Linked DNA regions of Homo sapiens. The protein of the gene in region 1 purifies or fractionates together with the protein of each later gene. This does not show direct contact. Each region holds a gene or a part of one and is shown in the gene's direction. Other genes may lie near its edges.

Evidence for each region.
Region 2: the proteins of PDK4 (region 1) and NUP188 purify together in Homo sapiens (affinity purification with mass spectrometry; one large-scale study listed by BioGRID and IntAct). This does not show direct contact.
Region 3: the proteins of PDK4 (region 1) and CNOT6L purify together in Homo sapiens (affinity purification with mass spectrometry; one large-scale study listed by BioGRID and IntAct). This does not show direct contact.
Region 4: the proteins of PDK4 (region 1) and YME1L1 purify together in Homo sapiens (affinity purification with mass spectrometry; one large-scale study listed by BioGRID and IntAct). This does not show direct contact.
Region 5: the proteins of PDK4 (region 1) and UHMK1 purify together in Homo sapiens (affinity purification with mass spectrometry; one large-scale study listed by BioGRID and IntAct). This does not show direct contact.
Region 6: the proteins of PDK4 (region 1) and FRK purify together in Homo sapiens (affinity purification with mass spectrometry; one large-scale study listed by BioGRID and IntAct). This does not show direct contact.
Region 7: the proteins of PDK4 (region 1) and DNAJC10 purify together in Homo sapiens (affinity purification with mass spectrometry; one large-scale study listed by BioGRID and IntAct). This does not show direct contact.

Annotation. Positions count from the first base shown.
Region 1 is NC_000007.14:95,590,017-95,593,516, reverse strand, and holds part of PDK4 (pyruvate dehydrogenase kinase, isozyme 4), read left to right. Parts: intron 1-572; coding exon 573-757; intron 758-919; coding exon 920-1,006; intron 1,007-1,451; coding exon 1,452-1,529; intron 1,530-3,500. UniProt on the Homo sapiens protein: Kinase that plays a key role in regulation of glucose and fatty acid metabolism and homeostasis via phosphorylation of the pyruvate dehydrogenase subunits PDHA1 and PDHA2.
Region 2 is NC_000009.12:128,982,199-128,985,698, forward strand, and holds part of NUP188 (nucleoporin NUP188), read left to right. Parts: intron 1-350; coding exon 351-503; intron 504-703; coding exon 704-830; intron 831-1,094; coding exon 1,095-1,182; intron 1,183-1,275; coding exon 1,276-1,352; intron 1,353-2,701; coding exon 2,702-2,816; intron 2,817-3,500. UniProt on the Homo sapiens protein: Component of the nuclear pore complex (NPC), a complex required for the trafficking across the nuclear envelope. Required for proper protein transport into the nucleus.
Region 3 is NC_000004.12:77,715,628-77,718,368, reverse strand, and holds part of CNOT6L (CCR4-NOT transcription complex subunit 6-like), read left to right. Parts: 3' UTR 1-2,741. UniProt on the Homo sapiens protein: Has 3'-5' poly(A) exoribonuclease activity for synthetic poly(A) RNA substrate.
Region 4 is NC_000010.11:27,147,885-27,151,384, reverse strand, and holds part of YME1L1 (ATP-dependent zinc metalloprotease YME1L1), read left to right. Parts: intron 1-2,344; coding exon 2,345-2,479; intron 2,480-3,500. UniProt on the Homo sapiens protein: ATP-dependent metalloprotease that catalyzes the degradation of folded and unfolded proteins with a suitable degron sequence in the mitochondrial intermembrane region.
Region 5 is NC_000001.11:162,521,818-162,525,317, forward strand, and holds part of UHMK1 (serine/threonine-protein kinase Kist), read left to right. Parts: intron 1-586; coding exon 587-733; 3' UTR 734-3,500. UniProt on the Homo sapiens protein: Upon serum stimulation, phosphorylates CDKN1B/p27Kip1, thus controlling CDKN1B subcellular location and cell cycle progression in G1 phase. May be involved in trafficking and/or processing of RNA.
Region 6 is NC_000006.12:116,054,392-116,057,891, reverse strand, and holds part of FRK (tyrosine-protein kinase FRK), read left to right. Parts: intron 1-3,500. UniProt on the Homo sapiens protein: Non-receptor tyrosine-protein kinase that negatively regulates cell proliferation.
Region 7 is NC_000002.12:182,754,257-182,757,756, forward strand, and holds part of DNAJC10 (dnaJ homolog subfamily C member 10 isoform 1 precursor), read left to right. Parts: intron 1-446; exon of another isoform or gene 447-549; intron 550-746; coding exon 747-848; intron 849-2,057; coding exon 2,058-2,213; intron 2,214-3,435; coding exon 3,436-3,500. UniProt on the Homo sapiens protein: Endoplasmic reticulum disulfide reductase involved both in the correct folding of proteins and degradation of misfolded proteins.

The DNA of each region.
Region 1 (3,500 bases):
TGCTGAGTGTGAAGAAATGTAGAGGACTCATTTTTGATCCCCCAGGGAGACCTATTTTTACTATAAATTTACTCCAATAATGAGATGTGTAGGAGGATTTACCATTACATAGTTTTAATACATTTCAGCGTCATTGGAGACTAAACATTTTCTTTCAGAGTAACTGATAGTTTCTAGCTACCTAAATAAGGATCTTTTCTAAATCTGACAAGAAATTTTGAAAGTTTTTTCACAATGGCATTCTAGAGTCATCTCTAGAATGATGATATTAGATATTAATCATTATTTTATAAAGAGAAGACTTAATGAATACATCTGATGAATGCATTGGTTATAAGGCTAATAGTTTTACATATAAGCTAGAAACAAAATGAGTCTGTTTGTGAAATTATCTCCTCTACTCTAGTGGAAGAATCTGTAGTGAGATTACTAATAAAGGACTAATGTTTTATCATTTGATTTGTTCAGATGGGTAATGCAAAAAAAACTTTAGCCTTCTGTGAAGTAACCTTAGGAGTATAAGTGAATGAAACGTATTTGAACTTTTACTAACCATAAATATTGTGGCTTAGCTTTGTAGATACACTCATCAAAGTTCGAAATAGACACCATAATGTAGTCCCTACAATGGCACAAGGAATCATAGAGTATAAAGATGCCTGTACAGTTGACCCAGTCACCAATCAAAATCTTCAATATTTCTTGGATCGATTTTACATGAACCGTATTTCTACTCGGATGCTGATGAACCAGCACAGTAAGTTAGCTCATCATGATCATGGTATATAGACATGGGTGTAGAATATAAGCCATACTATAACTAGATGTCTCACTAATCAGCGGGTCACATTCTCAGTGATAGTACTAATCATTATCCTGAATTTTATAACAATTTTTTTTTGTTTTTATTTTTCAACAGTTCTTATATTTAGTGACTCACAGACAGGAAACCCAAGCCACATTGGAAGCATTGATCCTAACTGTGATGTGGTAGCAGTGGTCCAAGGTATGTTCTGTATTTCTGCACTTCCCTTATTGAAAATGTACAATATATGATTGACATATCTATAATTGAGGTGACTCTGTGAATGAATTTATATTCACAGAGTGTTCCATTTATTTTATAAATGTTATCTTCAAGGTCCTTTGCTTTTGAGAGTCAGTAGTATAAACATTCCTCTAAAATATTATTTAAAAATCCAAATATAAGTGACTAACATGCCATATTTTATATGTTGTATTTAGTCTCTGAAGTGCACATATTGCTAAAACTGCAATGCAAACACTGTCTTAATTTTTCTTCAATAAAATATTAAAATATATTTTTATATACATAAACCTGTACCTTAGTGAATATTTTAGATTAGGGTAATACAGACACTGAAGATTATTTGAGAACTGTACTTGGCATAAACTCATTTCATTGTTATAAAAAACAACTTCTATTCCAGATGCCTTTGAGTGTTCAAGGATGCTCTGTGATCAGTATTATTTATCATCTCCAGAATTAAAGCTTACACAAGTGAATGGTAAGTTATAAGTAAAATATATTTTAACCTGTGGAAAATTCTGTGTTCTCCTAATATTATTGCTTTTTGTAAATATAAAGCAACTTCTGTGTTCATTTTTTCTCTTGCCTAAAGTTTGTACACATTTTTTTTGAAGACAAGGTTCTCTTTAACTATCTCAACTGGAAGGCTCCAATTCTGCCTATTCAGTTGCTAATGAGGATTCATAAAGAAGAATGTTTTGAACAAATAATATGGGATTAAAGTAGCAACTATATTCCAATATCTTAGATCAAAGAAAGATTACTTCCTATAGAATATGAGGGATAAAGAGACCAGAAGTAGGGAGGATATAGCAGTGGAAATATCCTCTTAAAGAGGTTACCCATAAGACCTGGAGACAAAAATACTTTAAATTTCACTATAAGAAATAAGCCAGTGACAGATGCATGATTCCACTTATATGAGATGTATAAAATGGTCACACTCACAGAAGCAGAGTAGAATGGTAGTTGTCAGAGGCTGTGAGGAAGGGGAAAATGGGGAGTTGCTATCCAACAGATAACGAAGTTTCAGTTATGCAACATGAATAAATCCTAGAGTTCTGCTGTTCAACATAGTGCTTATAGTTAAGGATATTGTATTGTACACTTAACATTTTGTTAAAAGGGTAGATCTCATGTTAAATGTCTCCACCCCAATACAAAAAAAATTGCACTATTGTTTTATACTACTGTTTTGGAAGCAGAACATACTTCAAAAATCTTCAGCTCAGCTGGGTTCAGTGGCATACACCTGTAATCCCAGCATTTTGAGAGGCTGAGGTGGGAGGTTTGCCTGAGCCCAGGAGTTCAAGACCAGCCTGGGCAATAAAGGGAGACACTGTCTCTACAAAAAATAAAAATTAGCCAGGCATGGTGGCACACACGTGTAGTCCCAGCTGCTCAGGAGGCTGAGGTGAGATGATCACTTGAGACCAGGAAGTCAAGGCTGCAGTGAGCCATGATTGTCCCACTGCACTCCAGCCCAAGTGACAGAGTGAGACCCTGTCTCAGACAAACAAACAAACAAACAAAATTTCAATTCTGACAAGGTCTTCCCATACTGTCTGAATGACTGAAGTGACTACATGATGAACGAAAGGCACTATTTTCACCCCTTCCCATTCTGTTCTGGTAAATAGTTGCATCTTAAAACAAAACAGTATACTTAAATTGGAATTACCTTCTCTTTTCTATTTAAAGTAAACATCTTTCTCAAGTAATATTTATACAGGAACAGTTTTTGTTTATGGTGACAGTTAAAATCAAGTTGCTCAAAGAGTAGCCTAACAGATTAGGGACAAGCAAATGTAAATAAATACCAAAAGTAGAAGAGCAAATAAAGAATGGAACGTATCTCTGAGCATAAACAGGGTTGTTGCATAATACTTGTAGATAAACTGCTCCAACTGTTGGACAAAATAAAGAGGGGATTGTGCCAGACCTTGTGTTTTCTGATTCGAACTTTGCCAAGGCCTGGAACGCTGAAGAATAATACTTTTATTTTTCTTTTCTTTCTAATTTTATTTTACTTTTTATTTTTCTTTCCAAAAAGCATTAAGAGGTTTTTGTTTGTCTGTTTCCTTTATCCTCTTGGTAAAATTTTAGCATATTTAACATATAAGATTTAATGTTTGGGTGATACAAAAAACAAGAAAAATCAGGTGTGTTATTTTACTAAATATTAAAAATATGAAAATTATAGTTAGCATTAATTTCAATATTATGCTATAAGCACAGTTTTCTCCCTTCTGTCTTAAAATACATAAAATTTTGACTCTGAAATTGTGCAGTACAAAAATGTTGAAAATAGAAATAATCCACAAAATCTAATTTATAGCACTGTTCTTCCACACTTACCCAACTTCACACATTTGTGGAGAAATACAAAAATTAATCATATGGAGCAAGGTGGTTCATGCCTATCATCCCAGCAGTTTGGGAGGCTAAG
Region 2 (3,500 bases), on another chromosome or scaffold:
GACAGGCAAATCACTTGAAGCCAGGAGCTCAAGACCAGCCTGGTCAACATGGAAAACCCCATCTCTACTAAAAATACAAAAATTAGCCAGGAGTGGTGGTGCGCACCTGTAGTCCCAGCTACTTGGGAGGCTGAAGCACGAGAATCACTTGAACCCAGGAGGTGGAGGTTGCAGCGAGCCGAGATCGCGCCACTGCACTCCAGCCTGGGCAAGAGGGAGACTCTGTCTCAAAAAAAAAAAATGTCTGTGAGTTTGTGTATCTCTGTGTGTTTAAAATATTGATGTCTGGTAGAGGAGTTACATTTTTTATTTATCCTCAGATATTAGACTAATTTATCTTTCTCTCTCAGGGGGTCAAACCAACCTTCGCATACCTCAAGGCACTGTGGGCCAAGTAATGTTGGATGATAGGGCATACCTGGTACGCTGGGAATACTCCTATAGCAGCTGGACCCTCTTTACCTGCGAGATTGAAATGTTGCTTCATGTTGTTTCAACTGCAGGTAAGGTCAGCTTTCGGAAACATCACCTACGAGGAGGAAAAGTGGATATGCTTGGAGGATTTAGAAAATAGAATATCTACATAAAATTTAGAACCATCAAGATTGTGATTTGTCTGATTTGTGTATCTGGGTCTCAGAGACTGTTCAGTGATCTTAAAGGGGTTGTTTGCCGTGAGGTCACAGGCTGTCTTTCTTCTCAGATGTGATTCAGCACTGCCAGCGAGTCAAACCCATCATTGATCTCGTCCATAAGGTCATCAGTACAGACCTGTCGATAGCAGACTGTCTCCTGCCCATCACATCTCGCATCTACATGCTGCTGCAGCGGTGAGTCTGTCTTGGCTGACCCTCAGCTGCCCAGTAGAGATCTCAGCACTTGTGCCCTCAGTTTGCAGGAACCTGGACACATACCCACTGGGTTAAAGTTCGCGCATATTCCTTGGTTTTCCTGTTTTTATATCTGTGAGGGTTTTCCTGTTTTTATATGTCTGCTGAGGGGAGAGACTGGGGAGAGAGAAGTGGAAAAATGTTTGTGAGGGAACCAGTTGTATTATTTGCTTTATTGAGTATAGTGTATTGTTCTCCAACCAGGTTAACGACAGTGATCTCCCCACCTGTGGATGTCATTGCTTCTTGTGTCAACTGCTTAACTGTTTTGGCTGCCCGCAATCCAGCAAAGGTGAGATGCCAGATCTTCCCAAGAGCCAAAAATGTAGCACTTGGCACATACCTGAAGATATGTGGGCATTTAACTCTTCCTTTTCCTTCTCAGGTCTGGACTGATCTTCGTCACACAGGTTTTTTACCATTTGTGGCCCATCCTGTCTCCAGCCTGAGTCAGATGATTAGGTGAGCCAAGTCCTAGGGTGGTGGGCCATATTCCCTAGTGAGAACCACATATGTCTCAGATCTAGCCTAGGTTTATTAATTTTATTTTTATGTATTTGTTTGTTTATTTTTTTGAGATGGAGTCTCACTCTGTTGCCCAGGCTGGAGTGCAGTGGTGCAGCCTCCGCCTCCCATGTTCAAGCAGTTGTTGTGTTTCAGCCTCCCGAGTAGCTGGGATTATAGGCTCGAGCCACCACGCCCAGCTAATTTTTGTATTATTTATGTATTTATTTACTTTTTTTATTTTTTGAGATGGAGTTTCGCTCTGTTACCGAGGCCAGAGTGCAGTGGCACGATCTAAGCTCACTGCAGCCTCTGCCTCCCGGGTTCAAGCAATTCTCCCACCTCAGCCTCCCCGGTAGCCAGGATTACAGATGTGCGGCACCACGCCCGGCTAATTTTTTGTATTTTTAATAGAGACGAGGTCTTACCATGTTGGTCTGACTCGTCTGGAACTCCTGGTCTCAAGTGATCTGCCCGCCTTAGCCTCTCAAAGTGCTGGGATTATAGGCGTGAGCCACCGCGCCTGGCCTGATTTTTTTTTTTTTTTTTTTGAGATGGAGTTGCGCTCTTGTTGCCCCGGCTGGAGTGCAATGGCGTGATCTTGGCTCACCACAACCTCCGCCTCCCAGGTTCAAGTGATTCTCCTGCCTCAGCCTCCCAAGTAGCTGGGATTACAGGCATTCACCACCACGCCCCGGTAATTTTGCATTTTTGGTAGAGATAGTGTTTCACCGTGTTGGCCAGGCTGGTCTCGAACTCCTGACCTCAACTGATCCGCCTGCCTTGGCCTCCCAAAGTGCTGGGATTACAGGCATGAGCCATGGTGCCCGGCCGAGAGCAAGAGAGATTTCTTATCCAACATCAATCACGTTAGTATGTGAGCATTTACTTTCCAGCCCAGAAAATCCAGAGGTTTCTAGATTCAGGGACTTGGTGTCCCGTTATTAAGCCACAATCACTCTGTACTTTTTCTCATTTCATGGGTTCTCGAGCTCAGCCAGTAGACCACTTACCAGTACACAGGCTCCATCTTACTACCTGAGCATTCTCGCCTTGCTGTCTCTTGACAAAAATGTTTCCCTGATGTTCCTTTGATTTTTTTACTTTCAATCTAGGTTTTACATCAATAAAACATGTTCTTAATGTTTACCCTGGGTACAGAACTGTCTTGATTGGATTATTTCCACTGGAGAGCTTTTCTATTTTATATTCAAGTCATCTAGACTATAACAAGAATGCTCTATGATTAGTTTCTTGAAACCTTGAAATTTCCCTATCATTTTTTTTCCCTCTACTTCTTTTTCCAGTGCGGAAGGGATGAATGCTGGAGGGTACGGAAACCTCTTGATGAACAGTGAACAGCCTCAGGGCGAGTATGGGGTTACTATTGCCTTTCTGCGCTTGATCACCACCCTTGTCAAGGTACAGTCTGATTTTGTTCACAAAGGGCAGAAAAAGAAAAGGTCCAGTCTTGTCAGATGACTCTGAAATAGTTTCCCTGGCCCCTGGTGCTGTAATCTTCTTGTCTGTAGGCAGAATAGTCATCTTGAAGTTACAGTGACAACAGTTTCTATGTATTGAGTACCTAGTATGTGCCAGTTATGTACTCTATTAGGTGCTTAATTATGTGAATTTATTTAATGATTGGAAGGTTTATGAAGTAGAATGGAAGAGGCCAAAAGGGTATTGCAGTTACTATCAAGCTATTTTGACAGTAACCTGGGATAATATCATATCCCAGTATATATACATGTGTGTATATTCCTGAAGCAAAATTTCACAGTTTATTTCACAACATTTATTCTTACCACACAAGTTGTACCCTGATATTTTCTATTCAGTCTCCTCCCTATTTAAGTGAATTTTGACCATAGACTGATCTCATAATCTACTAATGGGTTACAACTCGGTTTGAAAAATACTGACATAGAGCATAAATAATGACATAGAGCATAAATTTTGGAGTCAGAATTAGGTTTACATTCAGGTTGACAGCTTACTAGCTGCATGACCTTGAGCAAGTAAAGAATATCTTAAGAGTCTCTAAAACAGAATGCTATATGGTCTCTACCTCATGGGATTGAGAAGAGGGTCATGCATGAAAAA
Region 3 (2,741 bases), on another chromosome or scaffold:
AAGTAGAATAGCATGAAAAACTTAATTTTGTGGACATTACCTTTTTTTGTAATCAGCTACTGTATGTTTTATTTTAGATCTTTTGTTTTGGGTGGGTTTTCTGCTCTGGAGGTATATGCACTAACAAAACATTTTCCTCCTTTCATATACGCATGTTAATTAGCAATGTGAGCAATATTTCCTACCATACTTCACTCCCAATATTTTTTGAGATGTTTGTATAAAATGGAATTTAAAGTTCACTTATGATTGTATATGAACCACAGAGGAGCCCATTTATTAATAAAAAACTTTTTTAATAGTTAAATGTAGAGGGAAAAAATAAAAAAAAATGGGAAACATTGTAAACAGCTTAAGTTTATTTTGTGTATGATCGAGGCACTCTGTTGCAGGAAGGTGTGTAATTGGGTTCTCTCTGCTTCAAATGCGCTCTTTCAAACCATTCATTATCCTGTGTATTTTTAATGTGGTTTTAGTAAATGTTGGTAGTAGCTCTGTTGAAGTAGGTAATTGTGTTATGTTTTGGGTGGTACACACTTGGGGCATGGTAACCCAAATTTCATGTGCACGGTTTCCCTTTAGCCCACTGCCCAAATTTCACATACCCTTCACCCTTTGTTCCCTTTGTAAAAGGAGTGGTATCTGTTTTGAGCTGCCAATTCAGATGATCAGAAATGCTGCTTTCCTCAGCATTGTCTTGTTAAACCGCATGCCATTTGGAACTTTGGCAGTGAGAAGCCAAAAGGAAGAGGTGAATGACATATATATATATATATTCAATGAAAGTAAAATATATATGCTCATATACTTTCTAGTTATCAGAATGAGTTAAGCTTTATGCCATTGGGCTGCTGCATATTTTAATCAGAAGATAAAAGAAAATCTGGGCATTTTTAGAATGTGATACATGTTTTTTTAAAACTGTTAAATATTATTTCGATATTTGTCTAAGAACCGGAATGTTCTTAAAATTTACTAAAACAGTATTGTTTGAGGAAGAGAAAACTGTACTGTTTGCCATTATTACAGTCATACAAGTGCATGTCAAGTCACCCACTCTCTCAGGCATCAGTATCCACCTCATAGCTTTACACATTTTGATGGGGAATATTGCAGCATCCTCAGGCCTGACATCTGGGAAAGGCTCAGATCCACCTACTGCTCCTTGCTCGTTGATTTTGTTTTAAAATATTGTGCCTGGTGTCAACTTTTAAGCAACAGCACTGCCTAAAAGCAAGCAGAGAACAGAATCCCAGCACCATTCTATAGGCAACTTTTTAGAATTCAGATATAGTAAATCTGTTCCAGATTTATGATGTTTTATGTAAAAAAAATTTTGTATAATAACATAGCTGAATATTTTTGTTTCATTTCTTTGATGTAAGGCGTGTGAACATTCGTTTGAATATCACATGTTGAAGTCAGGTATGGCACAATGGGTTCTGAGACCAGCTTTTCCTCCCCTCCCATTTGCCTTGTTCCAAGCTCTTTCTTTTCAAATTACTTTTCTGATATTCATAGGCAGGTATTTAATTTTACTAATTAGCATCCTGTGTGAATGTATTAAAGAAGCCACTGTGTTTTAGTGTAGTTGGCAAAAATATAAAAGCTGTTTCTTATTTGCCCCTATTTTTTTGGTGTCTTAAAGTTATATATTAAATCACAGAGAAGCAAGGGAGAAAGTTGAAAGATATCTAAGGCTCATATCACTTGATTCTATGGTAGATTATATTAGAATTGAGGATGTGGCACATTAAAACTGGAACATGGGCAAATATAGTGTTCCATTTTAAAATTCTAAGTTTATATTGTTAAATGGGTGAAAATTTAAGTTTATATTTGCATTTCCAAGCGTTTCTAAAAATCACTAATGCCATCTATACTTTTAGTATGAAACAGCAGACTATAGAAAGCACAGGGAAGAATAGGCTAAATACATTCTTTGAAGAACCAGAGGCATATAACCACATCATTATGTCATTCCTAATACATGGCTAGATTTTCTAATGATAAAATTGACTGTGTCCCAATGCTTATTTGATTCTAAGCTTTTTTATTCTGTTTCTGAGATATTTTAATAGCTTTGCAAAATATGCTGACCAGTTTTTGGAAAATAATGGTTTTTATAGCAAGCAAAGACTTTATGGCACATTTTCAAAATAGCACTCATACATACTTACATTTTGACAGAAATGTGAATTCTCACATTGATGAGATATTCTTTTTCCCACCTGCCCTACCCTTTAAAAAAGGTCACTTTTCTAATGTGTAGTAGATTCATTTACGCCTTTCCCTTTGAGTCATACCATGTTTGGAGAACTGTGTGAATTGTAGGTAGAGAAATTAACTAGGGAAGCCAGAAGCTTGAACTAAAGTTTTAAATTTGTAGGCAGATGAGAACTTTTATACTATGGTTGCTTTGGGCGATTCTAATTTTGTAATAGCATCATGATCACCAAAATTAATTCAAACATTTTAGTACATCTTTAATCTGTCTTATTTACCAAAGTTCTAATCTGTTTAAGAACAGGATGCCAAGAGCATCTTTCATTTTATAGAATGATATGCTCACCTTTATAAGTGTCACCTAAAAGCTTGAGGGTAAAAAAGAAGCAGCCCATATATCTAAACTACAGGATGTCTTGAACAAGATTCACAGAAAGAAAGAAAAAAAAGCAGTTCTTTCCAGGAAGGTGGTAAGGAAGAGCATGCATATTTCTTGTTTTAACCAAATACCTTTT
Region 4 (3,500 bases), on another chromosome or scaffold:
GTCCCACCTCTTAACAGGATTACAGTGGCAACTAAGTTTGCCATTGTTCTCAACTCAAACTTGAGTTTTGAAGGAGATAAACACTGGAATTTTTACTGGAAGTGGGCCCTGATCCAGACCCCAAGAGAGGGTTGTTGGATCTCGCACAAGAATTCGAGAGAGTCGCCAGGCGCGGGGACTCACGCATGTAATCCCAGCACTTTGGGAGGCAGAGGCGAGCGGATCACGAGGTCAGGAGATCAAGATCCTGGCTAACATGGTGAAACTCCATCTCTACTAAAAATACAAAAAAATAGCTGGGTGTGGTGGCCTGCGCCTGTAGTCCCAGCTACTCGGGAGGCTGAGGCAGGAGAATCACTCGAACCCAGGAGGCGGTGGTTGCAGTGAGCCGAGATTGCATCACTGCACTCCAGTCTGGGCGACAAAGCGAGATTCCATCTCAAAAAAAAAAAAAAAAAAAAAAAGGCGAGAGAGTCTATAAAGTGAAAGCAAGTTTATTAAGAAGGTAAAGGAGTAAAGAATGGGGTACTCCATAGGCAGAGGAGCTGCTTGGGCTTGTCCACGAAGGATACCTACAGTTAGTTATTTCTTGATTTTATGCTAAACAATGTGTGATTATTCATAAGTTTTCAGGGAAAGGGGGACCCCTAAGGTTCCTCCCCTTTTTAGACCACATAGGGTAACTTCTTGATGTTGCCATGGCATTTTTAAACTGTCATGGTCTGGTGGGAGTGTCTTTTAGCATGCTAATGCATTATAATTAGCACATAATGAGCAGTGAGGACTAGCAGAAGTCACTCTCCTCTCCATCTTAGTTTTGGTGGGATTTGGCTGGCTTCCTTACTACAACCTGTTTTATCATCACGGTCTTTATGACCTGTATCTTGTGCCCACACCCTATCTCATCCTGTAACTTAGAATGCCTAACCTCCTGGGAATGCAACCCAGTAGGTCTCAGCCTCATTTACCCTCATTTTGCCCCTACTCCAGATGGAGTCACTCTGGTTCAAAAGTCTCTGACAGAACTGTAACAAGAAGTATAATTGTTACTCATTATTATAGCTGTTTGAGGATTAAATGGGATGATAGAAGTAAAGCCTGTAGTACTAAACCTGGTATATAATAAGAACCCATTTAATGTATTCATTTACTCAACAAATATTTATTAAGTAAATTTTTTTTTTTCTTGAGACAGGGTCTTGCCATGTCATTCAGGCTGGAGTGTGGTGGCATGATAGCTCACTGCAGCTTCAACTTCCTGGGCTCAAGTGTTTTTTTTGTTTTCATTTTTATTTATTTATTTATTTTGAGATGGAGTTTTGCTCTTGTCACCCAGGCTGGAATGCAATGGCATGATCTTGGCTCACTGCAACCTCCGCCTCCCAGGTTCGAGTGATTCTCCTGCCTCTGCCTCCCAAGTATCTGGGATTACAGGCGCCCAACACCATTCCTGGCCAATTTTTTTGTATTTTTAGTGGCGATGGGATTTCACCACGTTGGCCAGGCTGGTCTCGAACTCCTGACCTCAGGTATCTACCTGCCTTGGCCTCCCAAAGTGCTGGGATTACAGGCATGAGCCACCATTCCCGGCCTACTTACTATTTTTTTTTTTTTAAATGTTGGATGTATTTCATTCTGTGGTAGTTTCTTTTTTTTTTTTTTTTTTTTTTTTTGAGAGACAGGTCTCACCCTGTTGCCCTGGCTAGAGTGCAGTGGCATGATCACAGCTCACTGCAACTTCCGCCTCCTGAGATCAAGCAATTCTTCTACCACAGCCTCCCAAGTAGCTGAGACTACAGGCGCACACCATCACACCCATCTAATTGTTGTATTTTTTGGTAGAGATGGGGTTTCACTGTGTTGGTCAGGCTGGTCTTGAACTCCTGACCTCAAGTGATCCACCCACCTCGGTCTCCCAAAGTGCTGGGGTTACAGGCGTGAGCCACTGCACTCGACCAGTGGTATCATTTGTTTTGCCGCTCCCCTAATGCTGGATGTTTCCAGCTTTCTACTATTTTTTAAATGTTTCGATGAGAGTTGTTCTCTATGCATGTGCAAGTACTTGTCAGATTATTTCCTTATAATAAATTCCTAGAAGGTGGATTGCTACAAACAAGAAATGTATGTATTTTTGATACTTTTGATTTACATATTCAGAATAATATCCTGAAAGAACATACCAGTTTTCGTCTCACCAGCAGTAAATCTGAGTACTTACAGTTTTTAGTATACAGAGTTGATATATAATGTACCTTTAACTCTTAACAAATCCTGACAAAAAAAGGAGATTGTTCTGTTTATTTAAAAAAAAACTACTTAGTTTTTAACTTTTATCTTTTTCTAGGTTACAGTTCCTCTGAGTCATCTCATCAATGCCTTCCATACACCAAAAAACACTTCTGTTTCTCTCAGTGGAGTGTCAGTTTCTCAAAACCAGCATCGAGATGTAGTTCCTGAGCATGAGGCTCCCAGCAGTGAGGTAAGTCTTTATCCTGGTTGTGTGAGAAAGCCTTTTTGATATACAGTTGACCCTTAAACAAATGAAGGATTAAGGATATTGTCCCTCCCCCGTAGTCAAAAATTTGAGTATAATTTTTGACTCCTGAGAAACTTAACTACTAATACCCTACTATTGACCAGGAAGCCTTACCGATAAAATAAAGGGTCCATTAACATATATTTTGTATATTTTATGTATTGTGTACTGTATTCTTACAATAAAGTAAGATGGAGAAAATGTTATTAAGAAAATCATAAGGAAGAGAAAACATATTTACCATTCATTAAGTAGAAGTGGACCATCATAAAGATCTTCATTATCTTCAAGTTGAGTGGGCTGAGGAGGAAGAGGAGGGGTTGGTTTTTCTGTCTCTGGTGGCAGAGACCGGAGAAAGTCCACGTATCTGTGGATCTGTGCAGCTTTAATCTGTGTTGTTCAAGGATCACCTGAGGTCAGGAGTTCAAGACTAGCCTGACCAATATGGTGAAATCCCATCTCTACTAGAAATACAAAAATTAGCCGGGTGTGGTGGCGTGCGCCTGTAGTCCCAGCTACTCAGGAGGCTGAGACAAGAGAATAGCTTGAGCCTAGGAGGCAGAGGTCGCTGTGAGCCAAGATCGCACCACTGCACTCCAGCCTGGGTGACAACAAGACTCTGTCTCAAAAATAAATAAATAAATAAATATAAAAATGTAATCTCATTTTTTGGTTTAATCTAAAAAAAAACACCTGTTTTTACAGGGAAGTGGAATAGGTAGGGATTTAAGAAGTAAATAAAACTCTTAAAAAAATAAAGGACCAGCAGATTTAGGGAGCAGCTCATACTTCTAGGGCTGAGATAGAGTCAGGAAGAGTTCTCCATCCCCAGGGCTGAGATCCTGACATTGTTGGCGAAGGCATGGCCTTGGCTCACTGAATGGTAGAAAAGTTGCTGTGATGTCATGCCAGGGTAACGTGCTAGAAATCTGGGAAGTCTGCCCTCTAGGATACTGGGAAAAGC
Region 5 (3,500 bases), on another chromosome or scaffold:
ACGGTTTCACCGTGTTCGTCAGGCTGATCTCGAATTCCCGACCTCGTGATCCACCTGCCTTGGCCTCCCAAAGTGCTCAGATTACAGGAGTGAGCCCCTGCACCCAGCCAAATTGTACTTCCTAATAGGTGCAATTTCCAGCAGCTTTTGACCAATATTTTTTCCTTTTTCACTGCTAAAAGTACAGATTATCATCCAGGTACCATTGAAATGCAGTTGCTGTCTGAGCTATTCAGCCGTATCTTTGGCAGATGTCTAGTGTTATTCATCACTCCTGTAACGACCTTAGCAAAAGATTGTACATGATTCACACAACTTGTCCTTGAGAGATTTTTCAAAGTTGAGCTGAGTTGTGAGGAAGTATTCTAAACCTTGCTGTCCTGAAGTATAGTTCATAGACCAGCAGCATTGGCATCACCTGGAAGTTTGTTTAGAACAGAAACTCAGGCGACATCTCAGACCTAAGGAAGCAAAATCTGCATTTTAATAACATCTCCAGTTGATGTATATATATTAAAGGTGGTAAAGCACTGGTCTAAAACAATCTTGGTGGAAATGAAATGTTTTTTTCTCTGTCTTCTTTCAGGTCTTTGTTGAGTATGCAAATGCTGGTGATTCCAAAGCTGCGCAGAAATTACTGACTGGAAGGATGTTTGATGGGAAGTTTGTTGTGGCTACATTCTACCCGCTGAGTGCCTACAAGAGGGGATATCTGTATCAAACCTTGCTTTAATCAGTAACCTAAGGACTGTTTCCTTTTTCTCCTCTTCCATTTCTTGGGTTATTCCACATATGAATGCAGGACTACCCCCTTACCATTTTAAGAAGGTACTTTATACATTTATTTAATCCTACTAATGTGCAGCCATTGCCCAAGCAGTGACTGCGTTGCATACATTTGGCACTGAGTAGGACAAGACCTCTCAGCTATACATTGAGGGGTTTTAGAGCATCCATGTGGGCAACCCTTTTTTGTGCGGGAGAGCAGGTGTTGCTCTTCAGTATGTAGCCTAAAAAAATCTTAATTATTTCATGGATCATGAAGCAAGGATGAATAATATCATGTCTTGGTAAATACTAACAAATTTGTTAGGTTTGGTGACATCATTTACAGATTATTTCTTTATGTTGTCCAGTGGTTCTTCCTTATTGTTGATATCCATAAGCTGGCACTGGATGCTCTCAGTAATGTTAAGTAATTGTCAAGCAGCAGTTACCTACTGTGTTCTTAACACTGAGTTGTGAATTTTTTCTTAAAGCAGTACTGTAGTACTGAATATTCCTTTAAAGGAACTGCAGTGAGCCTATCTAAGTTTTTTTAAATTAAGGCTTTTAAAATAGAAAGCTGATGCTTGATCTTGCACAATTTTTATGTCTAGTATGTATGCTTGAGTGAATGTGCGAGTATGAATGATTAGAGAAAATTTGAGTCAGTGTACTTTATAGTGTGAATCCTGTGAGCTAATACAGTCTATACTTATTTCTTCCCTACCTGTTTCACATCCGTAAGATTTAAGATATACATTTTTTGAGAGGTAGTCTGTCTGATACAATGTAAATGACAAAACATAATTCCTGAGAGGCCCAGAACAAACTGGAGTCTAGCCTGGAGTTAAATTGAGACTTCTAAAATGATTGGAACAAAGACTAAGTTGTGCCAGATGTAAATCAACCCCTCTTTTAGTTTACTTTAGACTTTGTATTAGCTCATCTTTTTTGTAGTAAATCTATAGTTTTAAGGTTTCTCAAGATGTGGCTCTACCTACTATGATGAAAATTGAAGTGGGTCAAAAGAATTAGATGTACAGTGAAGGGAAAAGAAAAAAAATGGGCGAAGAGAGGGTGGAAAATAAAAGGATTCTTTTTTCTTCCTTTCTGTTTCTCGTATCCCTGCTCCCTTTTTCCTCCCCTTCCCTCATTCTTTGCCTCTATCCTTAGCTGAAGACAAACTAGAGGAGCAGCATCCCAGGTAGTTTGGCTTTTGACTGCAAGGTAGTTAAGAAAGGTGTAGATATAATGAGGTAGAAGTAGAAAGGAAGAAAAACTCAAAGAATTCTTAAAAGGATTCATAGCAACATAATGTGTCCCTGAGTAGAGGATGCTGCTATGCGTGAGTTCATGGACACAAGTTGATTACATGGTTTTTAGAATTATAATTATGGATTCTTCTTATTTCATGGTAGGTTGTCTTTAAAGATATAAAAATTAGGATGCCTTTATGAAGCACTGATTATACCAAAAAAAAAAGACAAGTTATATACAGGTTATTAATTTTTTTATTTATTTATTTTTTCCTAAGGAAAAAGTCTTCTATCTTTCCCTGCTGGAAGCCTCCTCATATTTCCTTATGTTTGCCATGCAGGTTGCTGAGAGTCCAGTTAGAATTTGCATTTTACAGAATGAAATACTTTACCCCATTCAAACAATTATTGTTTGACATTTTAGTTATTTATAATTGTCAAATTCAGGACTCTCCTTTAATGTTTATTATGAAACCAAATTTGGCATAAGGAGGCTGATTTATGAATTACCAAAGGGTCTTGTGGCATGTTCCCCAATACATGCCCTTAGAAGGAAGAACTATTATTTTTTATTTTGGCCCTTTCAGGAGTTGATTATAAATTGGTTTGTTTTCAAGTCAGAATTCAAGTGGGCAGAACCCGTATTGTGAAGACCTAAACTTTCCTAAATGTTCATATGGGTAGCAGATTTTGTGGTGATTAGAAACATCAGGTCCTTAAATACGATGAACATGGGATACAAAGGAATTCTTTATAAGGGCAAGTATCCTAAGTTAGCACATTTACTTTTCTCTCCCCTCCGCCCCCAAAAGAAAAATCCTTACAAATAAACTGCAGGTAGGCTTCTAAGCCTAGTCCTGCAGTATGCTGCTAACATCTTGATGCCAATCTTCACAGCATTCTTTGATTGTCATCTTATTGCTGATACATTCATACATATATTTAGTGCTTGACACTGTAGAATTTTGTTACAGAAGATGGTTACTAGATTTTAAGGGAGCTGAGGGAATAATTGATGAGCCTTGAATTAACCATGCATTTAATTAGATTTTTTGTTGTTGTTGTTGTTGTTTTGAGATGATGTCTTGCTCTGTTGCCCAGGCTGGAGTGCAGTGGCTCAATCTCGGCTCACTGCAACCTCTGCCTCGCAGGTTTGAGCGATTCTCCTGTCTCAGCCTCCCCAGTAGCTGGGTTTACAGGCGCTTGCCACCACACCTGGCTAGATGTTTTATATTAAAGCCAGAGAATTGAAAAAGAAATGCCTCCTGTGATTGAAATTATTTTATAGCTCTTAGCCCGTTCTACCAAAGATCACATTAGCAGATTACCCCTCCCTCCTGTGATATTATCTTTCTTAAACCTGAACCAAATATCAAAAGATACAAGTTTCATGATTAGGATGAAATATATACATAGGGATTTTGGTTTATTGAAGTTATTGAAAGACCTAGAAATTTTCTTTTTGAGAGAAAGGGTAAA
Region 6 (3,500 bases), on another chromosome or scaffold:
AAGGTATCATATTCTGGGTAAAAGGCTTGAGAGCAGTGTTCTTATTAATTTAGATTTTCTTTGCCTACAAACACAAAATAAGGCAACTAAATTATTATGGCTATTTTTGATTCTCAGAGTCATTTGTAGCCAATAATATTTTTTCCCTCTGCACATTACCTTGACCTTTCTTCTTGGAATTGGTTCTCAGCAGCATTCCTACCTGTCAGTACCATTCTAGATCTCTGTAGTTAGCTTTCCTTGGGATCTTCACATCCACTGGAATAAAAACCATGATGCCCAGAAAATGCTGCCACTCTGCCTCCTGGCTGGAACAGGCTACTTGTTTTCTTTTAAGTGCACACCATGGTCTTCACCTGTGAACCTGGCTTACTTCTGAAGTTTCTTGTCACCGTAAGGCAAAATTGCTTCAATACTCTTAGTGCAAGTAGCTGTAGCTTCTAGAATTCCCCTCCATCTCAAATAGAAGCGATTTTTACTGAACAGCCTTCTGCGTGAGTGTGTCCAAGTGGCTCACACAGTACTTTAACACTTGAAGAATTATATAAAAACAACTTATTTTAATATTTTTTCTTCAGTGAGTTTTTTCAAAAGTCTATTTTTTTCTCCTGAATGCTGTGAAAATTAACGTAATTTTTTAAAATCATGAGCTCAGTAAGTTGACTTAAGGAAAGATTATTGTTTATATCCACATGTATGGGATGAGTAGGCAATGGGAAACCAATGAAAGCTGTCATCTAATTCCTAATTAGACCAGTTTAATGCAACGTATGTTAGTATTTGTGTTTTTATGTCTTTACTTTTGATGTGCATCTGTAAGAAGAAACTGCAAATACTTCTGGAGTTATTGGTGCCAGGGAAAATTAGTTTAAGGCTTTAGTTTGCAGTTTGTTTGTTTTCTTTTATACTTGGAAGTAGAGATGTTGAAAAACAAACTATTGTTTAAAAAGCCCAATTTACTAATTCTTATCCCACTTAGAAATGCTTTTCACCTTTACTGAATATCTTCCACTAAGTGATATAATAAACCAATTCTTGAAGATTTATTTTGTCTTTATGAAGAATCATTAGATTTATCTTATCTTCGACTTGAATTTATTCCTAGCTCATTTTAGAGATGAGTCTTTTTCTTCAACATCTTCAATGTGAAATCCCTCGAAAACCTTGCCCTTAGGGTCTTATTAATCAGAACTTTCTTTAATATTTTATTTATGGTGTTTTTAAAGATATAAAGTTCACATAAAAATAATGATGTGGAAATAACATATAAATATTAGAACCAAAAGTAATGGCTTTAAATTTCATTGCTTTAATTGTAAAAAATTCAAGTATTGCAAAATATTGATAAAAAGCAATATGATCAGCAATAATATTAGACGTAGCATCATTTATCTGCAAAGAGTTTAAAAAGTTTTTTTGCTTAGGGAGGATCACCTGTGTCCAGGAGTTCAAGAACAGGCTGAGCAACATAGTGAGACCCAGTCTCTACAAAAAAATTAAAAAATTTGCTAGGCATGGTGGCACAAACCTGTAGTCCCAGCTACTCGAGAGAGTGAGGCTGGGGCAGGAAGACTGCTTAAACCTGGGAGGTTGAGGCTGCAGCAAGCTATGGTTGTGCCACTGCACTCCAGGCTGGGTGACAGAGCCAGACCCTATCTCGAATCCCCACCAACCAAAAAAAAAAAAAAAAACCAAATGAACAATTTTTTGCTTAATTGTTAAAGTGTACCTTAGGTGTTGTCTAACATACTTTTGTGTTAAATTGAACTAGGGTCAGAGATGAGATCAGTTTAATCTCCCAGAAAGGGGATTGGTAGGAGGGGAATGGGGTGGACATAATCACATAAGCCAGCCACTGATGATTTCTGCTTCGCCAACTTGACCACGCAAGCCAAGGGCAGCAGTTGAGATAGCTGATTTGACTCCCCTTTGCATGTTAAGTTTAAGTTATGATAACAACAATGAAATGTGCTGCTGAACTTCTGACTCCATACACTTCTCAAAGACATAAATGAAGATTCTATTAAGAAAATTAGATCACTACAATCATCTCTAAAGTTTATTGTTTATTAAGCTCCACATTTTTCTAGGTCATATTCTTGTGTATCTTCTTACTTGTGAATCAGTAATTTTGTCTTAAGTCCATTCTATAGGCCTGGTATGGTGCTAAGTGAATGACTCAGCAAAGGCAGAGGAATTAGTATTTGCTTTGTTATATATATATAATTTGGCTTTATGTTAAGAAATATTTCCACACTTATGTGTGAAACAATAAAGGCCATAAAGTTTATTTCTGTCTCCTAAATTTGAGCATGGCATACCTTTGTGGGTAGGAGGGCTAGAGGAGCCACCCATACTGACCTACGATGGTGTCTTTGTATCTCTTGTTAGCACTTTAGCAGGGGAAGAAGCAAAGTACTGGATTTTGTAGAAAGTTTTTCTTCTCCTCTTATTACTGTGAAAGGTAGATAATTTCCAATTCCTCATCTATTCATCATTTCAGTGGCTTCCTTGAAAAAGAAAGCAAGAATAAATATTTGTAACTTGTAGTTTTGTTGGTAGTTTATGATTATGGTATAAAAATGTTAGAATGTTCTGAAGTATAAAAGTAATGGGATTTTTCTCCATGTATTTAGGCCATATTTTCCTGCTTGTGCTGCTCTTTAGTGTGTCAGACTAGAGTTCTTTGAAGATTTTATCTAACCTATGATGATTGCCATTGTCGAGCTTGAAAGCAGCATGGTGAAACAAAGTGGTATATTCTTGGAAAGATTCTTATATCACCTATATCACCGTTTTAAAATAGAGTGAGGCTTTGCTATTTTGTCATTTGAATGCTGTGGAATTTAATAATTATTGAATACAAATTGTACATAGTGTGCCTAATCATTTTCAACTTAAATGTCAGCAGATTTTTTTCTTAGCTGGGATATGAGACCAGCTTTTGCATCTTAATTATAGGTATAGAAACAATGTGGTTTAAAAATTAACATTACCCTTAATACATTTTAAAAGTCATCAGAATATTCATAATCCACTCTGACATAATAGATGTTATCTACTTTGAGAAGTTTGAATTATTAAAAGTCACCAGTGTGCGATCAGTTCCACAATTGTTCTTTATCTAGATCATTTATTTTGTTCCCTTTGTGTAAGTTGTCAGGGAAGACTAAATGCCCATGTGTCAAAATGAAAATAATACCTAGTAATAAATGCCTGAAAATAATGCCTGGCATTTCTGGGTTCTCTCCTCTAAGACAAAGTATACTTACTATAATTTTAGAAATGAAATAAAAAGGTATTTATATATATAAATAACACTATATTTATAAAATATAGTATTATACTATATTATACTATATAATATATAATATATAGTATAATATTATAATAGTATAATATACTATTATATATTATATATATTATATTATATATAATATAGTATAAATAATATATAATATACTATATAAATAATACTATATTTATAAAAAATACACTAT
Region 7 (3,500 bases), on another chromosome or scaffold:
TTGTTTTTTCAAAAATTATTTTTGAATCCTGGTCAAAGATTCCAGTTTGCTAATGAGTACTTAAAACTTTAAGAGTGCAAAGTTCAGCTACAGCAAATCCACAGACAAGGATCTCTTTATAACTTTTTGAAAAATAAAAATAAAAGCTTTAGAGAGAGGCTTCCTGGGCTGGTGCCCATTTTAATTCTGAGAAGGAAATTAAGCATTTCCTACTATAAAGGCTATCTTGAAGAAGAATAAAAAGGGATTACATTCATAGGGCATGATTCATAATTCTTTAACCTAAAATATAATCATGTACCCCCTAATTATTTGTGTCTTTATTCTTGCTGTTTTATTTCCTGATCATCATCTATTTCTAGAAAAAGTATTTATTATGGTTTAAAAAAAAGACTCAAGCTAGAGATATAGCCTGTTGTTTATAGCCTCTTCTTACCTTGGTTCAGGAGAGTAAAAAGGGACCATTCGTATAATTACCCATGCCGATTTCTCAATGTTTCAATGCCTATGGTTCTCATGGCGAATGGAGCAGCTATAAATAAGGATCAGGTATTCATCAGTATTTAGCAGTATTCATCACCATAAGTCCTTTGCTAAATTTGGTGAGACTAAAATTTTTGTCACCAGAAATTTAGAAATGGGTTTTTAAAATCTTGTTCTTGTTACTTAAAGGCAAACTTGTTATAAATTTGTAACAAATAGGTGAAATCTATAAAATCTTTAATTCATATTCTCCTTCCTATCAGTATAACATTCAGGCTTATCCAACAACAGTGGTATTCAACCAGTCCAACATTCATGAGTATGAAGGACATCACTCTGCTGAACAAATCTTGGAGTTCATAGAGGTATTTCAGATTATAGACTATGTGACTAGAAATTTGTCTGTTTCTATGTAAACCCTGTATGAATGTTTCATATTGTTTAATAGGATTTACTCTTTTCATGCCCAAACTATTTTCTTACAAAATGATTTTTAAAGAATTTTTCTAATGTTTTACTCTTCTTATATACTTGTCTGTAAACTCAAAGTAAATCTGTGTTTTATTTGTTACCTGGTATGTACAGTGCCTTATAAACAATGGACACAATTATTTATTGAACATATGCAATGTATTTTCACCTTGTCACCCCTTTGCACTGTTTTCTCTGAAAACAAGTGTCTGGCATCTACAGCATCTTTTTTTTTTTTTTTCTCAGTAACACTCTTGATAGAAATACTTACAGGGGACTCCTAGAAAAAAAAAAAGAAAATTTCTAGTTTATTATTATCCATTTGATGACCCTCCAACCCTGTCCTACTCACCTGTTCCTCCTCCTCTGACGTAATGTTTTGTCTTGTTTTCCCAGTGAAGCTAGCCTCTTCATCAGTATTACCTGACTGTTGTAGGCTGAAGCTTTGTTAAAATATCATTTGGAACAAAGAATCTGTAGAAAGGTGTAGTATCTCCAGTCAGAATGTCAGAAAAATGAGATAGTAGGCTTTCCACTAGTAATTAAAGAATCATTTCCAAACCAGTCATTCTTGGTTCTAGAACAGAACTTTATGGCCTCTGTAGACATCCAGGCAGCCCTTGAAACTCTTTTATTATCCATGCAGAAACTTAAAGTTGCCTCTTTGCCTGTTATGATTTTAGTGATACATAGAGATAAAGGATAAATAGACCTTGATTTTTTACAAAACTAATGAGCAAAATCCAAACTTAAAAATCTAAGTTAGGTTTATTTTCATATTTTAAGATAATTCACATTGGATTTCTTTTAGCTATCCTTAAGCATCTTTTGGTTTCTCAAAAATGGGAACTTTCTAAAGGACATACACAGATTGAGCACCCCTAATCCAAAAATCTTAAATCTGAAATGCTCCAAAGTCTGAATTTCATGTTTAGACTTGGGTTTCATTCCCAAGATATATGCAAATATTCCAAAATTCAAAATTCTCAATACTTCCAAGTATTTTGGATAAGAGATACTCAACCTGTACCAACAATTTGCCAGGAATATATGAACAGCTATGCTTTATATATATGTTATAATGGAAGCTATATTCTCTTCAGGATCTTATGAATCCTTCAGTGGTCTCCCTTACACCCACCACCTTCAACGAACTAGTTACACAAAGAAAACACAACGAAGTCTGGATGGTTGATTTCTATTCTCCGTGGTGTCATCCTTGCCAAGTCTTAATGCCAGAATGGAAAAGAATGGCCCGGGTATAGTAAAAATAGTTTATTTTAAATCTTAACATTTACTAAGAATGTTTATTTAACAGAATTATTTTGAAACGGATGTGAATGAACCCACAACTAAATTATTACTTAATAACAGTACTGATCATACCACTTTGATTCCAGCTCTGTTTCTGTCTGGTGTGTGAATGGTATAGCCTACCATTTTTGTGTGTATAGCATCTGGTACACTTTTTTTTTTTGGTCGGGTAGCAGGGGGCAGAGTCTCGCTCTGGAGTGCAGTGGCGCAATCTCGGCTCACCGCAACCTCAACCACCCTAGTAGCTGGGATTACAGGCATGTGCCACCACGCCTAGCTAATTTTTGTATTTTTAGTAGAAACAGGGTTTTGCCATGTTGGCCAGGCTGGTCTTGAACCCCTGGCCTCAAGTAATCTGCCCACTTCTGCCTTTCAAAGTGCTGGGATTACAAACATGAGCCTCCGTGCCCAGTATATCCAGTACTTTTGACTAAACTGTTGCCAACAACAACCCAAAAATTTACCTCATATTTGTTTCAATTTTTTCTAATTTTTTTCCTGCTTTATTTTTAGAGTTTAAAAATATCATTTCCTGACATACTGTAGGACTTAAAAGTAAGAAAAAAAAGCTTTCAGCATGTGTATTTAGAAAATTTCCTGAAAATAGGCACCATGTTTTAAGTTGTAGAAGATTGGAAACAAATCACTTAAATACCAGAATGGAAAATGCAATTACTACTTCACATTTGTTTACAAGATAAAACACTAAATCTGAGTTAAAGTGATTTCTAGTATCTTAACATTTAGGATTACATATTTTTGTGCTCTTTTCAATAAAATTTTTAAGTTCAGGTGTGAGTCAGTATAACACATTAGACACCTACAAAGCTTGTTTTCATTGGAAAGAATACTTTGAAATATTGCAAAGACTTTCATTAGTTTCTAGCACTTTGAATTTTAGAAGTATATAGTTTTTTCTCATGTAACAGTTAAATGAAATAAATTGTTTAATCTGCAATAATTTTAGTAAGTACTTAATTACAAAATTAGATTACAAATTCATTAGTATAAATGGTCTATTATATGTTAAACCCTTATCCATTTTTATTGGGTAAAAGTCACTGATAAATAATATAATAACTGTTTCACCATAATAATACAATGCTTATTTCTTTATTGCAAACATATGTAAAAAGTTATGGAGGTAATCTGTTTTTTCTTTTACAGACATTAACTGGACTGATCAACGTGGGCAGTATAGATTGCCAACAGTATCATTCTTTTTGTGCCCA